Regions from separate parts of the Homo sapiens genome. Here region 1 is linked to region 2. Evidence: fine-mapped expression QTL. A gene starts in region 2. The other region holds a variant in brackets. All regions are shown on one strand. Distances are between the middles of the regions.

Region 1 (9,340 bases), 61 kb after region 2:
TGACTGTTATTCTGTGTGTTACTGTGTGTGTGACTATGTATATGTAATTGTGTTATTCTGTGTGTGACTGTGTGTGGGTGTGACTGTTATTCTCTGTGTGTGACTGTTATTCTCTGAGTGTGTGACATTCTATGTGTGACTGTGCAACACTGTGTTACTCTGTGTGTGTGTGTGACTGTGTTATTCTCTGTGTGTGATTGTGTGTGTGTGTGACTGTGTTATTCTCTGTATGTGTGTCCCTGTGTGTGAGCGTAACTTGTTATTGTCTGTGGGTGTGTGACTGTGTTATTCTGTGTGTGTCCCTGTGTGTGGGTGTAACTGTTATTCTGTGTGTGTCCCTGTGTGTGGGTGTAACTGTGTTATTCTGTGTGTGTGAACCTGTGTGTGCACGTGTGACTGTGTTATTCTGTGTGTGTGACCGGGTACGTGTGACCCCATATGGACTTCACCACAGGGCCTCTGACCCTATCCTGCCACGGCTGCAGGTGCCTTTACCCACAGGTATGGCTGCCACCAGGCTAGAAGGAAGGGAGTGGAGGTGGCCGTGCCGAGCCAGGGGCCTGGGCGGCACGGGCAGAGGGTGTGCCATTGGGGTGTTCCTTGGGCTTGGCTTGGAGAGAAGCCATCGCGGAGTCCCCTCTGCTCCAGGAATTTTAACCCTCGAAGCCACAGCGGGTGAGCTCATTCCCACCCTGCCCCTTAGGTGCTCTCAGGACTCTGCTCCCCAGGGCTCTCTGGGGAGAGCAAACGCCATCTGTTTCTGAACAACTTTCTCCATAGATGTGGGTTTGTAGGCCACAGGATGCCCTTTGAAATGAAGTGGACAAAACCCAAGTGGACCCAGCCATCGGTGCTTTTCTGTGTCATCTTCCAACCCAGGACGTGGGTGTCAAGTGCCTCTTGCAGCAGAGGAAACTGAGGCTCTGAGACATCACTGGCCGTGGGTAGAGCCCAGACCACGCCGGCTCCTTCTGCCTCCAGCCCTGCATTCCCTCCAACCCCCTGTGACCTCCTGCTTCACAGAACAGCCCTGAGACTCAGGAAGAAAGGCCCCTCTGGCGTTTCATGGGGCTCAGAGCCTGTTCTTGGGGACTGATGGCCTGAAGGGGTCTTGGTGGCATTCACTGTTGTCACCATTCCATGATAACTGCTGCAATCATGAAGGTCCACTGGGTACCCCTGCATGACAGGCACAGGCTCGGCAAGGCCTGTGTGTGAGCTCGCTCATGCTCGGGGACCGCTGTTACCCATTGTTTTGTAGACAGGGAAATGGAGGTTTGGGAAGGCTGGAGGGCTGCCAGGTGAGAGGGCCAGGGTGTGACTGCACGGGTCTCACACCTCACCACTGTCCCTCGCCCTCGGTGGCCAGATCTGGCCACAGCTTGGACACTTCCTTGTCTGGGTCCAAGTTGCACTCACTGGGGGTTGAGGCCACAGTGGGCATCCGTAAGCCAGAGAGCCTTGAATGAGCCCTTGCCCCATGGGGGCAGCCTGAGTGCCTCTAGGGCAGGTGCTGAGTCCCCTTCACCCCCGTATCCATGATGCCAGTGTGATGCCAGGCTTGCTGTGGAAGTTGTGCCACCAGGGCTGCAGCCAGGGTAGGAACAGGCTCAAAGGCCTTTCCACCATCCCAGACTCTTCTCTCCTGGGAAGCAGATGCCTTAGGCTGCTGAGGGAGGAACAGCACAGCCTGTCACCCCCAGGGCACAGACAAAGACACACCATGGCTAGGGGAAGGATAGGAAGGAACTCTTTTTCCTTGGAAGGGCACCAGGAAACCATCCTGGCCTACGATCCTGCACCATAGAAAACAGAGGCCTTGGCTGGGTGTGGTGGCTTAACACCTGTAATCCCAGCACTTTGGGAGGCTGAGGCGGGTGGATCACAAGGTCAGGAGTTCAAGACCAGCCTGGCCAAGATGGTGAAACCCTATCTCTACTAAAAATACAAAAATTAGCCAGGCACAGTGGCGGGCACCTGTAATCCCAGCTACGAGGGAGTCTGAGGCAAGAGAATCGCTTGAACCCAGGAGGTGGAGGTTGCAGTGAGCCGAGATCATGCCGAGATCATGCCACTGCACTCTAGCCTGGGTGACAGAGCAAGACTCTGTCTCAAAAACACCACCACCACCACCACCACCACCACCAGAGGTCTCTTCTCACTGGGGAAGGGACAGGACAGTCACACCCAAGACCCCGACAGAGTTTGCCACAGGGAAGAGGGGTAGGAATGCTGGGGTGAAGGGCACAGGGAAGGGCCTGTCTAAACTGAGGCTGGACCAGTACACAGAGAACCCACCCCAAGCCTTGAACATAACCTTGGTAGAATAACAAGCAGCAGCTGTCTACTGCCGAGAGAAAGTGGGGTAAGATCCATGCTGCAGCACAGGCAGGCAAGAGAAAGCTGAAAGCAGAGGGTGGGGCACCACACTGAGGAATCTCCTCCAGTGCCCTAGTCCCAACCCTGGGCACAAGGCAATGACAGCTCATTGCTAGAGGTACTTGAGGCCTATGGTACATTGAAGATAACCATAACAATGACAAATCCCAAACCCAGCTCAATTCCTAACAAGATTGACTCAAATCCCACACTAACGGTCTGACAGAAGAGGATTACCCATTTCCATATGTAAATACTATTGACCGTAGTCACCTCTGTTCTATACATGAATGTTCAGTATTCAATAAAAATTATATATTTTTTGTTCAGAAGCAACAAAAAACAACCAACCCATTGTCAAGAGGCAAAACAATGAATGGAGTTAGACTCAGAGACGACCTAGATGTTGTAACTATCAGACAGTTATGTTAGAATGGCTAGTATGACAACGGGTCTAGTGGAAATGGCAGACAATATGCATGAACAGATGGAGAATTTAAGCAGAGAAGTGAAAACTCAAAGTCAAAGACAGTTGCTAGAAATAAAAAGATATGGCATCAGAGAGAATTCCTTCAATGGGCCCATCAGCAGACACGAAAACTGAGGAAAGAGAGAAATTGAAGATGTCAGTAGAAATTAACCAAACTGGAACACAAAGAGAAAAAAAAGTGAGGGAAAACCAGAGCATCCAAGAACTGTGTAACATGACAATCCTATAAATGACATCAACCTCAACTCATAATGTGAGAGTCCCAGAAAGAGGAGAGGGAATGGAGCAGAAGAAATATTTGAAGAGATAATGGCTCAGGCTTTTAAAAAAATAATGAAAGACATAAAATCGCAGATCCAAGAAGCTTGGAGAACCTCAAGCAGGACAGAAAACAAAGCAGCTACAACAGCAAACAACCAAATAGACACATCAAACTCCAACTGCTGAGCACCAAAGAAAAAGGAAAAAATCTTGAGGTCAGAGGAAAAAAGACATACAGAAGAACAGTGAGTTACAGCAGATTTCTTAATTTCTTATCAGAGGCTTGTCATGTGGGAAGACAATGGGCAACATCTTGAAAGTATTAGAGGTTGCGGGGAGGGGAAACACATTTGTCAGCCTGGAATTCTATACCTAGAAAAAAATACCTTTTGAAAATGAGGTTGAGGCTGGGCACATTGGCTCACACCTGTGATTCCAGCACTTTGGGAGGCCAAGGCAGGCGGATCACTTGAGGTCAGGAGTTCGAGACCAGCCTGGCTAACATGGTGAAACCTCATCTCTACTAAAAATACAAAAATTAGCTGGGCATGGTGGCAGATGCCTGTAATCCCAGCTACTCGGGAGGCTGAGGCAGGAGAATTACTTGAACCTGGGAGGCGGAGGTTGCAGTGAGTTGAGATCACGCCATTGCACTCCAGCCTGGGTGACAGAGCAAGACTGTCTTTAAAAAAAAAAAAAAAAAAAAAAAAGAGGTTGATATAAGAACCTTTTGAGAAAAAAGCAGCTGAGAGAATTCATTGCCAGCAGACCTGTGCTACAAGAAATGTCAAAGAAAGTTCTTCAGTGATAAGAAAGAGTTTGAGATCCACATAAATAGATGAAGGGCTCCAAAAACAGTGAAAATGAAGACAATAGAAGGGTACTTTTCCTTATATTTAATCTAGAAAGTGAGTAAATGGATCAGAGGCCATAAATTAAATGTGAGGAGACCCCTGGGGGCTTTAAGAGGCTATACAGAAAAAGTAGGGGCCTCTCCGGCATCCCAGCACCCCTCTACCCCCGCCCCTATCGTACGGTCACTGTTTTTCCTTCCTGGCTGCCCTCTAGGTCACTGCCCTGAGTGTGCAGGGCCTCCCTTAGCCCATCCAAGAGGCCTAGTAGATGAGGCATGAGGAGGGAGAGGCAGCAGAGAGTGTGCCGTGCCTGTAGGCATTGGGGTGTGTGGTCTCTCCAGGTGAACAAGGACTCATGTTTCAAGAAGAAAACAGAAGTGGAAAAAGCCACATGAAGTCGTGACGGTTTGAGTCTCATCGTGGGGGAAAAACGAATGAGTGCACGTTATGTGGCCGGTCCATGGTAAATGTTAGACGTGTTATTGTTGCTGAAAACCAAGTCCAGCCTTCTCAACTACAGGGCTAAACAGTGAGAATGCTGCCTTTTTTTTTTTTTTTTTTTTGAGACAGAGTCTTGCTCTGTTGCCCAGGCTGGAGTGCAGTGGTACAATCTCAGCTCACTGCAACCTCCGCTTCCCAGGTTCAAGCGATTCTCCTGCCTCAGCCTCCTAAGTAGCTGGGACTACAGACATGGTCCACCATGCCTGGCTAATTTTTGTATTTTTAGTAGAGATGGGGTTTCACTATGTTGGCCAGGCTGGTCTCGAACTCCTGACCTCAGGTGATCTACCCTCCTTGGCTTCCCAAAGTGCTGGGATTACAGGCGTGAGCCACTGCATCTGACCAATGAAGCCTGCTTTGAATGATGATCCTCTCCCATATCTCAGACCCACCAAACCCGCAGGCAGTTTAGTTTTTGGTGTTCTGCAGATCCAGTGACACATGATCCTGAACACTGACCCCTGTCCTCTGAGGAGCGGAGCTGTGGCATTTTTAGGAGGAGCTATTGCCATCTCTGCACTGGCCAAACAGAACAGGAAGGAGCGGATGCAGGAAGCCACGCCACCACAGAACCCACGCCGAGGCCACGCTGAGGCAGATAGGGCCGTGTGTGGGTGGGCTATTCTGGGATCAGGCACTCTCTCCTTGATATGTCAGCCTTCTGGATTGCAGTGCCACCCACGTCTAAAAATATCTCTAATGTGCAGTCGGCTGCCCACTTCATCCTGTTTATTTATACAGAAGTGACAGCTGAAACTTTCAATAAA[T/C]GTTGTGAGCTCCGTCAGTGAGGATGTGATAAAAGAATTCCCCTCAGAGTACAGACATTCTTCTGCCCAAAAGAACACAGAACGGACTGAAGGACCCAAAATAGTCATGAAAAATACACCCTGGCTTTAACTCCCTAAAGTTTCAGTTCTCGTGTCACTGAGTAATTATCCTTTTTTGGCTAGGACCTTCTATTCTGGGGCTCGAAGCAAACTTTGCTTGGAATGTTCCTGAATCCTATGGTGGGAGTTTCCAGCATATCTGGGTCCCAAGTCAAGGCCCGACACCACTGTTCATGGTTACTTGCTGGTAAGAAAGTGTGATCACTGATGCTCACAGGTGAGTCATCTACTCTGGGGACACCCTGGGTTGCAGTTGTCCCCCAGCTACCCCCGGCTGGCCCTAATATGAAATATCTGAGCCTGGGCCCTGTCACCCATAGACCTGGGTTCAAATCCCAGCTCCACCTCTTACCCAGAGTGATCCTGGAGACCTCATTCGCTTGTTCAAGTCTTAGTCTCCTATTAAGATAAAGATACAGGTCCTCACTTGACTGGCTCATGACGTATACATTTCTTGTCCTTTTTGAGTTTATACTTAAGCAAAAGGTGACCAGGCAATGTGTGTCTAAATTGTCAGAAAATCTGAGGGGAAAGCACTTTTGGCTTTATATTCGCTTTTTAAAATTTATTTATTATTTTAGACAGCGTTTTGCTCTGTTGCTCGGGCTGGAGTGCAGTGGCACGATCTTGGCTCACTGCAACCTCTGCCTCCCGGGCTCAGGTGATCCTCTTGCCTCACCCTCCAGAATAGCTGGGATTACAGGCGTGCACCACCACACCTGGCTAACTTTCATTTATTTATTTATTTTGATTTTTATTCTATTTTTGAGACAGAGTCTTGCTCTGTTGCCCAGGATGGAGTCCAGTGGCATGATCTCAGCTCACTGCAAGCCCCACTTCCTGGGTTCATGCCATTCTCCTGCCTCAGCCTCCCGAGTAGCTGGGACTACAGGTGCCCGCCACCACGCCCTGGCTATTTTTTTTTTTTGTATTTTTAGTAGAGACGGGGTTTCACCGTGTTAGCCAGGATGGTCTTGATCTCCCGACCTCGTGATCCGCCCGCCTCAGACTCCCAAAGTGCTGGGATTACAGGCGTGAGCCACTGAGCCCGGCCCAATATTTCTTCTAGAAATACAAATGACTACTAAGCATGTGAAATGAAAGACCAAACATCCAGATGGCACTCCTCTTAAAAAGGAGAATGCTAGGCTGGGCGTGGTGGCTCACACGTGTAAACCCAACGCTGGGGGAGGCCTAGGCCGGAGGATTGCTTGAGCCTAGGAGTTTGAGAGCAGCCTGGGAAACATAGTGAGACCTTGTCTCTACAAAAAAATACAAAATGGCTAACACAGTGAAACCCCAACTCTACCAAAAATACAAAAAATTAGCCGGGCGTGGTGGCGGGTGCCTGTAGTCCCAGCTACTCGGGAGGCTAAGGCAGGAGAATGGCGTGGACCTGGGAGGTGGAGGTTGCAGCGAGCGGAGATCGCACCACTGCACTCCAGCCTGGGTGACAGAGCGAGACTCTGTCTTAAAGAAACAACAACAACAAACATTTGCCAGTGCTGGGATGCACCTGTAGTCCCAGCTAGTTGGGAGGCTTAGGTCAGAGGATCACATGAGCCCAGGGAGGTGGGAGATTGAGGCTGCAGTGAGCTATGTTCCTGCCACTGCACTCCAGCCTGGGCAACAGAATAAGACCCTGTCTCAAAAAAAAAGAAAATAATGCTGAATGCTAGTGAAGGTGTAGGATACTGAGGCAGGCACTCATAGCAATCCTCAGGGAAGATAAACTGGTACAATTTTTCTGAAACACAATTTGGCAATATGTATCAATAATCTCAAACTCACGGATGCCTCTTGACCCCGTAATTGCATTACTGGGAATTATCCTAAATTAATAATGTGAAATATAGATAACAGTGATGTAAGAAGGTGTCCACTGCAGATTTATAATTATGAAAAACAGCAAACAACAGGACAGCGGTCACAGAAATTGTTTATGAGTGGCTCCATTATGTAGCTGTTAAAATTATATTTAGGAAGAAAATTTTAAGATGTGGAAAAACATTTATGTTCTAAAGCTGGGCAGAAGAACAGCTCTCATGCCTGTGATCCTAGCACTTTGGGAGGCTGAGGCAGGAGGATCGCTTGAGGCCAGGAGTTCAAGACCAGCCTGGGCAACCTAGTGAGACCCAGTCTCTCTGCTAAATAAATAAATAAAGTTTTGAAAAGCAGCAGCAGGTTAGACCAGGTGCCATAAACAGCCTGGATTGGGGTAAAATGGTCCACATGGGAGGGGGACACAGCAGAATGTCACAGGAGTGATCCCCACCAGAATGGTAATAACACGAAGGACTTTTCTCTCAACTTTTTTGGGTTTTCTACCTTGAGCATACATACTTTTTATAATTATATTTAACAGCTCATTTTAGCAGGAAGGCTCACAGGAAACTAGATGTTGGCGTCACTGCATCTGCAGCCACCGTGCCTGGTGTCTGGGGCAGCCTGGGTCTTCCCACCAGAGGGCTCTGATGTGCAGGCAGGGCTGGGACCCTCTGGTGACAGCGGCTCATGGGGGAGGCGTGCAGGGCAGACAGGGAGCGGGGACGGGGCGTTGGGCCTCTCCAGTCTCAGTGGCCTCCTGCGTGGAACTGGGGGCCCCGCGGGACCCAACTCTGAGGCAGGAAGGGGCTCTGTGGAAGGGTGAGTGGGGGTGCGGGGTGGGCCCTGGGGGCAGGACCCCACTTTCCTCCTCGCTGTGTTCCCCCCACCCCCTCTGCGGAGACCTCTGCGTCCTCCTGGTCCTCCTGTTCCCTCCTCCATCTCCCTGTCCTTCTGGCCCCTCCTCTTCCTCCTGATCCCTCTCTCCTCCTGGCCTCTCCCTCCTCCTCCCAGCCCCTCCTCCACCCCCTGATCCCTCCCTCCTCCTCCCAGCCCCTCCTCCTCCTCCCGATCCCTCCTTACCCCTCCCTCTTCCACCTCGCCCTTGCTCCAGGCCCCCACCTCATCCTCACTCCAGCCTTGCTCCGGGTGGCAGTGGGGCATCCTCACTCACTGAAGACCCCGGGCCCTTACCAGCCCCCGGAGGAGAGGCATCCCCCGCGAAGTGCTCCTTCTCTCTCGGCCTTGGGCTGCACCTGAGAGTTCCCCATTCTCCCTCCTCCACCTGAAGCCTGGGCTGTTCACTTCTGGCTGTGAACACATGTGACTCAGGGCCCCCATGCCATGCCTATCCCCTGAGTTATCATGGCTCCCCTTTCCCTCAAGGGTGCCCTCCCCTCCTGAGGCCCCATCACTGTGCCCAGGATGGGGCAGAAGTGACTCGTCCTGGTGGATGGGTTATTACAACTTACATACCAGCTTCCACTTTTCTGTAGTGAGTATGTGGGGGCTTGGCATCTATCTACCCCTTCTTCTGCCTCCCCCAGTTTAGTCAGGGGCAGCCATCAAACCCCTCCACCGCCCTCCACTCTGCATGCTGGGCTTAGCTACCACGGGCTCTCCAGGCCACATCCCACACCCTGGCCGCTGCCCAAGCCCACCGTCCACACCTTCCCACCCCTGCTTCACGCCTTCAGTGCTCACCATTACACCTGTCCCAGATTCAGAAGCTTCTGTGTGGGTCACTCAACTGGGTCCCCTCCCTCCTGCTGGCCACATTCTAGCCACAGTGGCCAGTGTTCTGCCTCAGGACCTTTGCACATGCTGTTCCTTTTAACTGGAAAGCTCTTAGCCTCATCTTCACAAGGCCACCCTATGCTCGCCCTTCGCTTAAATGTCACGTCCTCAAAGAGGCCTTTTCTGGATGCTTCAATCATATTTGGCTTCCCCAGCAAAGTGGGGTTTTCCTTCATAGATGGGTGTTACTTTGTGGCTGTCCATGAACTCATGTGATTATTCACCCACTGTTGGTCTCAACAACCAGACTGCAGACACCACCGGGGCAGGGAGGGTAAGAGCAAAAATCCCCCTTACTCTGGTCACAGTGGCCACCTCCAAGGCAAAGTGAAACAAAGCCTGAAGGA
Region 2 (9,340 bases):
ACATTAATCGTCCTCCTTGCCATGGTCAGAGAGGGTCACTGGAACTTCTTTTGACTGAGGACAAATATTTGTCACCAGGGCCAGGTGCCGTGGCTCATGCCTGTAATCCCAACACTTTAGGGGAACGAGACAGGTGGATTATGAGGCCAGGAGACCGAGACCACCCTGGCCAACATGGTGAAACCCCGTCTCTACTAAAATACAAAAAAATTAGCCGGGCGTGGTGGCCCACACCTGTAGTCCCAGCTACTTGGGAGGCTGAGGCAGGAGAATCACTTGAAGCCGGGAGGCAGAGGTTGCAGTGAGCTAAGATTGCACCACTGCACTCCAGCCTGGCAACAGAGTGAGACTCAAAAAAATAAAATAAAATAAAACAAAATAAATTGTCACCAGTTCAATATTTCCATAATTTCCTTTGTTGCTTTCGTATCATTTTATTTCAATACCACTCTGATCGTTTCAACAGAAAATGATCTAAAAATTCCATGTGAAAAGCTTGACCTAAGCACAGAAATTTTAGGTTGAGGCTAAGATCCTGAAAGTCAAATAAGAATACTCCGTTCCTCATTGGCATTTGAAACCATTTTTCACCCAGGTCTCTTACACAGTTTCTCACACCATCTTCTGCATATCCCCTAAATGCTGTCAGATTTTATTTTCTATTGTTTGTACCATGAAAACAGTACAGGCCAGGCATGGTGGCTCATGCCTATAATCCCAGCACTTCGGTAGGCCGAGGCAGGTGGGTCACCTGAGGTCAGGAGTTCTAGACCAGCCTGCCCAACATGGCAAAACCCCATCTCCACTAAAAATACCAAAAAAAATTAGCTCGGCATGGTGGCGGGTGCCTGTAAATCCCAGCTACTCAGGAGGCTGAGGCAGAAGAATAGGTTGAACCCGGGAGGTGGAGGTTGCAGTGATTGTGCCATTGCACTCCAGCCTGGGCAACAAGAGTGAAACCGCATCTCAAAAGATAAAAAAATTTAAAGAATTTTTTCAAAACGAAAACAATACATAGAATACGATCTTCTGAACTGCACAGTCTTTTCCACTAGAGGACACGGACATACACATACCCTAAACCCCTTAAGAAGCACTGGTCTAAAGGTTTCAAAGACAGCTCTGCACTTTCACGGTCATAAGCTCTCAGAATTGCAAAGTTGGAATGGACTTCTCTCACTCCCATTCCATTTTAACATGTGGACCCCAGGACAACAGAGGCCCAGAAGGTAGGCTGCCCAAAGCCACTCAGCTGCTAGAAGCTGTCACCACAGACACACTAGTTTCCCTCTTGTGGATGACAAAAATGTTTTTTGTTTGTTTTTTGAGACAGGTCTTGCTCTGTAGCCCAGGCTGGAGTGCAGTGGCGTGACTTGAGCTCAGTGCAGGCTCAAACTCCCAGGTTCAAGAGATCCTCCCACCTCAGCACCCTCCACCTCCTAAAGCAGCTAGGACTACAGGCAGGCACCATCATGTCCAGCTAATTTTAATTTTTTTTGTAGAGACAGGGTTTCACCATGTTACCCGGGCTGGTCTTGAATTCCTGAGCGGAAGCAATCCACCTGCCTCAGCCTCCCAAAGTGCTGGGACTACAGACGTGAGCCACCATGCCGGGCAGGAAATGTTTTTATCTCGAGTGTGGTCATGGTTTCAGACTGATCAATTACACAATTTAAATATGGGCAATTTAGTGTATTTCAATTACGCCTCAATAAAGTTGACAAAAATGTGAAAATAAACCAACATTAGTTTCTTCATTGTTACGCTACTGTGCCATCTCCTCAGGTGGCCCTCCATAAGAGCACATCTTCACAGCTTCGCCCAGAGCAAAGCAGCTGGGTTCAGCTGATGAAGTTACTTCACAGGCAAATAGTCACAAACACCTGTAGGGGCTTTAGCTACCACAGACAGCAGCACCATCTAGAGCCAAGCTCTCCTGCTTCAGCCCCTACCTGGAATGATCTTGTCAAAAATCCCTCACAAGGATTCCTTGTCATGGAACAGTGTCTCCCTTCCCAGCCAAGTCTGCTGCCCCGTGTGCAGACTCGAGCACATCAGTCCTGCCACATCGTCAGAGTCACCCAATAATGGACCAAGACGTGCATCCATCCATCACCTGGGGGTCAGCTGGACGCACCAGATGCCCTACACAAGGACTACCAGGTCTCTGGCTGACCTTGGGAATGCAAATGAAGCAAAGAGTGAAAAATAAAAGCACAACTGCTTGAACATGAGTTCAGCAGGCAGTAACCTAGGAAAGTCAGAATGAAGAGTCCCACAGAACAGCAAGCACCAGGGCCACATGCAGCTCCCTGAAGGAGGCTCAGGGAAGCCTGGGGAGAGAGATCCTTCATGCACTCAAAGGCCAACCACCAAGAAACTCTTCTGCACCACTACAGCCCGCAGGCTACGCTTAACGCTTTTATACCCCCAATCACGCCACGATGAAGTCTTCTCTGTGGGCAGAAGACGCTCCAACATTCAATTCCACTGAAGAGTCAGATTGCTGGTTTACTATCTTCAAGTCTGTGACTTGCAAGATATAAAAGAATGTAACACTGGTGCTTTGTTTTCCATAGAAAGTAATAAAAAATGTACTTCTCTAACATTCTAAGAAATCTAATATAGTGACCATCTATTTTTCTATCGTGTGTATCATTTTCACACGCCACTTTAAGAATAAACCCAAGGCCTAATTTGGGAATGTTGCCATAGCTGTAAAATTAAATTTAAACCAAAGGATTCTATCAAAAAGTAAGTCTTCAAACTGTCAAGAGGCTAGCTGAATACCTGCAGTTGCTTCAGAATTCTTTTCCTTCTTCAATATGCTTCAACTCTTGAAGATCTGGTTTAAAACAAAACTTCCTCTTTCCTGCAAATTACGCTCTAAGGCAGCATTTCGGTAACAGATCAGCTGTTCTGAACAGCATTCTCAGTTTCTAAATTCCACAAGTTGTAATTGGCCCAGTTAGGTTCCTCCTCTGGGTGGGACCTGCTTTCAGACAGCCCGGAGAAGAGCATCTGGTGTGCAACTTACTAGTGCCATCAAGTGATATTTACTCAGCATCCCTGCAAGCAATGGCAAAACCAGGCCATGTCACTTGTGCAGGGACACCAGGGGCCAGTCAGCTCAAGGTGAGGGGGCTACTTATTTACAATTCCTTCCGAATGGAGACGTCTCAATCCAAGCATAAAGGATGGGACTGCGGGTCACTAGGGGACACTCAACTTCCCCAGCCAAAGGGGCCCCGATCAGGGCACAACAAAGTCCACATCCCACTCTTCTACAGAATGCCAGTGCCCAGGAACCTCCTGCTCGGCACAGGAGTACGCTGGTTGACCGACCATCTTTGGAGCCCAGCCCCTTTTACGTTCAGCAGTAAACCTGCCCCTTCCTGCACTGCCTACTACCTGAAAGGCAGGTATGTCCAGGTGGGGGGTCCTCAAGCCCCACAGCACTAAGCTTGGTGTGATTCTGTCTCTCAATCTCTCTCTCTCTCCCACCTCTATGCTCCCCCTTGCCTTCATCTCACTCCTCAGCCAGGATTCCTCTGCACCAGGCAGGCCAGTTTCCTCTTTGTTCCTTCACAACACCCTGTTCATTTCCAGAAGCTTCTATTCAGTCTGATACCCAGGTCTAGAATGCCCTCCTTCCCTTCACAAACGAATCCTACCCCTTCCTTAAGGGGAAGATTCCTACCTACATCCCAACATCTCCTCCTCCAAGAAGCTTTCTCTGGCTATTCCAACCCATCCTGCCCCCACTTCCAGGCGGTCGGGAATGCAGAGTGGGGGGACCCAATTCTCTCCTGTGACAGATGAGGAAACTGAGCCCAGGGAGGGGAAGGCCACACCCAAGATGACACACCAGCAGAACTAGGTCTGGAACCAAGACTCTGCTGCACTAATTGTTCCAAGATGCCCTTCCTTCCTCGTCTCCTTTGCTGTGGTAAAAATTTTCCAAACTAGCCTGGCCGCCCCCAGTTGTAGGTAAGCGTCCATACTTACTCTTCCCGCTGCAGGTACGAGGACCGGGCGCGAGTTGTCACTCCCCTCACCTCCCCCGCTCCTCACGGCCTAGCGCGACTCCTGCCCCGATCGGGAGTCCAGTCCCGGTTTCTGCGGCCACGTCGGGCCGGTGACCTTGGCCAGGCGCTGGACGCCCCGCTTCCTCCGTACAAGGCAGGCAGCCGATCCCGCGAGTGGGGCGTGAGCGCGGCCAGGTCTGTGCCACGCTCGGCCCAGGGCCTGGTTCACACCAGGTGCTCGGCGCGGGCCGTCCCCCGCCGCCGCCGCCGCGGTCACTCACTGCCGGGCGAGGCCAGCGCCCCGGCCGCCGACGCCGCCTCCGACCCCCGGCTCGCGGCCCGCGGCCCGCGGCCCCTTCCCATTCACGCCGCTCGGCCTCGCGTCCGGGTGCCCGCGCCCGCCAGGCCCCCGGCGTGAGGAACCCGGCGGGCCCGAGGCGGCCCCGCCACCGCCCGCGCCCTCCGCCCGGCCCGCAGGCCAGCCCGTGCACCGGCGGCCGCACCTCGCCCCGCCGCAGAGCCGCACGGTCGCTCCTCACCTGGGCTCCCCGAGACAGGCGAGGCGGGCCCGGCGCCCAACACCATGCCCGGTCCGGGCGGCTGCTGCGAGACGCGGCCCCTCACAGCCGCACCGGCTCCCGGCGGCGGGACCGGAAGTGGCGGGGCGGGGACTCGGCCGCTCTCGCCCGCGGCAGCCGAGACAGCAGCGGGCGCTTTAAAAAAAAAATTCAAAGTCGCGAAAAACTTTATTTGGAACCAGACACGCGAACAGCGGCGTGCGCCGATCGGGACTGGGCTGGGCGACGGGCCTCTCGGACCTCGCTCATTGGCAGAGGGCGCGGCCAGGGGGCGGGCACGGATTTCGCAACCGCCGCTGATTGGCGAGTAGCGTTAGGGGCGGGGATTCCGAGTTGGCTCTGGAGCCCGAGCGCCGGAGGGCTGGGGGTTTTGCACCTGGTTCCAACACGGGTTCACTTCGTGGTCTGCAGGGTTTAGGGGCACGGAGGAGCCCGGGCTATCCTTCCCTGAAGGAGCGGCCTCCGTGGCTGGAGCTCCCGCTGTCCAGCGCCGCACCTGGAGTGCAAAGGACTGGACAGGCCCCCGCAGCCTGCAGTGCAGGCGGTGAGGGAGACCGGGCGGTCAGACACGCAAGCCACGACCAACCCCAAACCGTGTGCTGCGCCCACAGGCCCCACTGTTCTTGTCATGTCCCTTTTATTCCTTCTTTTCTCTCTTAAATGTGTTTAAAGTACCTTAAAAATCCATTTCAACTTGTCCTCTTTTGGGCGCCCAGATTCATCCCGCGCCCATTAGCGTCCTGTGTGATTGACGAGGGGCCGTCCTGGGCGTCAGGCAGGCCCCTGGAGGAGTGGGCCATTAGAAAGATGAGGTTCAGCATGGAAACGGTCAGAAAGAGACAAGGAGTTAGACTTTCATTTCGAAAAACCCCACTGAGAGGTTTCTAACAGTGGAGTGACTATCAGGTTTTCTTCCTAAAGGAGGCTGGCGGGCCCGGTGGCTCACGCCTGTAATCCTAGCACTTTGGGAGGCCAAAGTGGGAGGATCCCATGAGCCCAAGAGTTTAAGACCAGCCTCCTGATGGTGGCAAGACCCCATCGCTACAAAAAAAGAAAAAAAAAATTAGCCGCGTGGTGGCGCGCGCCTGTAGTCCCAGCTACTCAGGAGGCTGGGATGGGAGGATCACCTGAGCCCAGGAGGTTGAGGCTGCAGTGAGCCGTGATCGCACCACTGCACTCCAGCTTGGGTGACAGGGCAGACCCTGTCCCCATAATAATAATAAAGGCTTTGGCTCTAAGTGAGTCGGTGGGAATGGAGTCAGGAAAACTGGTCAAGAACACAACTCAGCCGGGCGCAGTGGCTCAGGCCTGTAATCCCAGCACTTTGGGAGGCCGAGGCAGACAGATCACCTGAGGTCAGGAGTTCAAGACCAGCCTGGCCAACATGGCAAAACCCCATCTCTACTAAAAATACAAAAAAGCCGGGCGTGGTGGTGCGCCCTTGTAATCCCAGCTATTTGGAACGCTGAGGCAGGAGAATTGCTTGAACCCAGGAGGCGGAGGTTGCAGTGAGCTGACACTGCACTCCAGTCTGGGTGACACAGCAAGACTGTTTCCAGAAAAAAAAGAAAAAAGAAAGAACACAACTTGTGTTATTTCTTGTGTTTGGGACCATGTCTCTCCCTTTTTTGCCCGGCTAACTCTCAAGTTTTCCTAAGCTAAGACACCAACTTCTGATAGGCCTCAAAGCCTGGGGGTGGGGTGGGGCAGTGCAGGTGCCCTCTGTGTCTTCCTTGGAGCCCTGCACTTCCCTCTTCCTTATTGTCATGGCCTGTTTCCCTGACTAAGCTCAGCTCCTCAGCCCTCCTCTTCCTTCTTCCTCCAGCGTCACCTCCTGCCACCCCCTTTCCCATCCTGGAACATGCAGGTGATTAAAACACATCTGCTGGATAGAGATTGCATGCGCTGGCGGCATGAGTCCTGGTGAGAGGAGATAAGGGCTTGAAGATTGCAGTGTGTGAAGGTGCAGCCGGAATGGCGTGAGCACTTGTCTTACTCATAAGCGTCACTGTCTGCAGAATGGATTGCACCACACATTGGCCCACGTAGGCCCAAATTCCACCGCTGTGGATGAATGAAGTCATTTCTAGCTCCATTTCATGAGGCTGCCTAATTCTTTCACTAAGACTTATTTAGGACTTCCTAGTTTATTAACTCAATTAATCCAAACAATAACCCCATGAAACAGGTATTATCCCCATTTTATAGATGAGGAAACTGACACAGAAGTTAAGTAGTCTGTTGGCAAAAAAGGTCAAACTGTAAAATATTTGAAGAGATTTTATTCAGAGCCAAATATGAGTGACGAAGGCCTGAGTCACAGCCTCAAGAGGTCCTGAGAACATGTGCCAAGGTGGTTGGATTACAGCTCGATTTTTATAAATTTTAGGGGTGTCAGAGGCGTTTGAACCAGAGCAACTCCATCTTGAGGCTAAGACCTACTGGGCTACATTCCCAGGAGGTTAGGCATTCTAAGTCACAGGATGACATAGAAGGTTGGCACAGGTACAGGTCACAAAGAGCTTGCCGTTAAAAGGATGCCATTAAGAAGCCGGCCAAAACCAAGATAGCGACGAAAGTGTTCTCTGTTCATCCTCACTGTTCATTACGCACTAGTTATAATGTATCTGTTGCTAAAAGACACTCTCACCAGTGCCATGACAGTTTACAAATGTCATGGCAAAGACAGCAAGTTATCCTATGTGATCTAAAAATGGGAGGACCCCTCAGTTCCAGGAATTGCCCAGCCTTTTCCTGGAAAACTCACGAATAATCAACCCCTTGTTTAGCATATAATCAGGAAATGACCATAAAAGTGGCCAACCAGCAGCCCTTGGGGCTGCTCTGCCTACGTAGTAGCCATTCTTTTATTTCCTTACTTCTCTAATATACTTGCTTCACTTTACTCTAATGGATTCCTCTTGAATTCTTTCTTGTTTGAGATCCAATAACCCTCTCTTGGGGTCTGGATCAGGACCCCTTTTTGGTAACAGGGGGACAGAAGTTACAGGCAGACACCAATCAATACATGTACATTAGTTCAGTCTGGAAAGGCAGGATAACTGGAAGCAGGGAAGGGTAGGCAGGAGCTTCTGGATCATAGGTAGATTCAAAGATTTTCTGATTGGCAATTTGGTTGAAATAGTTATTGTCTAACGAACTGGAATGAATAGAAAGGAGTGTCTGGGATAAGATAAGGTGTTGTATAGACAAATGTTCTTATGTAGATGAAGCCTCCTGGTAGCAGGCTTCAGAGAAATAGATGGTAAGTATTTCTTATCAGACCTAAAAAGATGCCAGACTCTTGGTTAATCTCTCCTGGATCAGAAAAAGATCTGGAAAGGGAAATCTACAGAACGTAGATTTTCCCCACAAGAGACAGCTTTGCAAGGCCATTTCAAAATATGTCAAAGAAGGCTGGGCACGGTGGCTCATGCCTGTAATCTCAGCACTTTGGGATCACGAGGTCAGGAGTTCGAGACCAGCCTCACCAACATGGTGAAACCCCATCTCTACTAAAATACAAAAATTAGCCAGGTGTGGTGGCAGGCGCCTGTAATCTCAGCTACTCAGTAGGCTGAGGCAGGAGAATCACTTGAACCCGGGAGGCTGAGGTTGCAGTGAACCAAGATTGCTCCATTGCAATCCAGCCTGGGTGACAGAGCAAGACTCTGTCACAAAAAAAAAAAAAAAAAAACTCAAAGAAATATATTTTGGGGTGAAATATTTCTCTTTCTTTCAGGGCCCACCGTCATGTGATGCTATACTAGAGTCAGTTGGAATTTGGCATCTTATTAGTACAAACAGCCTGTTTTGTCAGTCTTATGATCTCTGTTTTAATGTTAATGCTGGTGAGCTGTGCTTGAATGCCAAAGTGAGGAGGGTATAATGCAGCATGTCTGACCCCTCCTTCCCATCATGGCCTGAACTAATTTTTTAGGTTTCTTCAGAATCCCCTTGTTCAAGAGGAGGGGTCCATTCTGTCGATTAGGGGGCTTAGAATTTTATTTTTGGTTTACATGTCCAACATGGCTGTGAGGAATAGAGAAGTTCTTCAAAGTTTCTTAAAACCATAAAGAGCTTGTCATTTCTTTGCTTTATGCATATCTATATATGTTCCAGTGCAGCTGCTCTGACTTGACCTGGCATGCCTGGACAGGGTTAAGGCAGCCCGGGACCATAGTGCCTGCCATAGCTTATTTGGAAACCCTCCTGACCCTCTCATGACTAGCTTCCTCTTTCCTTTGTCCTCTTTCCTCTTTACCTATTTAGAAAAGTTTCAAGCTGTTAGCCAATCAGGTCAAGCTTAGAATGTGAGGTCCCATTCTGGCCAATGGAAATGGGACACAGCCATAGGACGATTGCATCAGGTTACAAAGATTATAAATGTCCCCATCTCCTTTGTTCAGGTGTGCTCTCATGGCAAGACTGCTAGCGAGCGGCACCCTTTCTGCAGAAACTAAACTAGCCTTGCTGAGAGATCCTTTGTCTCAGTGTTGATTTTGCCACACCGAACTCCCATTTCCAACAATGGCAGAGCTAGGATTTAAAGCCAGGCAGTCTGACTCTGAGATTTGCCCTCAGCCAGCACACCTTGAGGCAGCTGATACAAAGAACTTGAGGTAAGCTCTGGGAAGCTGGAGATGGTGCCATGAGTGTATTGCCTGCAGGCCTGTCACCTGAGTCCTGGCCTCTGTGGGCTGGCCTTGCCCTACCAGGTGCCTCCAGGGAGCT

Evidence for each region.
Region 1: its variant is fine-mapped to the expression of UBE2F in whole blood (INTERVAL, PIP 0.96).

What each region holds. Positions count from the first base shown.
Region 1 is chr2:237,901,218-237,910,557 of GRCh38, reverse strand. The region is part of intron 2 of RAMP1 (receptor activity modifying protein 1); the gene reads right to left. Among named protein-coding and RNA genes, the nearest start is that of RAMP1, 46 kb to the right of the region's middle. The variant T/C (reference allele first, on the strand shown) is at 5,253.
Region 2 is chr2:237,962,360-237,971,699 of GRCh38, reverse strand. It overlaps UBE2F (ubiquitin conjugating enzyme E2 F (putative)), which reads right to left and starts at 4,686. Exons shown (of 10, transcript NM_080678.3): 1 at 4,568-4,686. It overlaps UBE2F-SCLY (UBE2F-SCLY readthrough (NMD candidate)), which reads right to left and starts at 4,755. Exons shown (of 19, transcript NR_037904.1): 1 at 4,568-4,755. RefSeq lists a silencer at 4,463-4,642 and cis regulatory regions at 6,159-6,822, 7,149-7,552.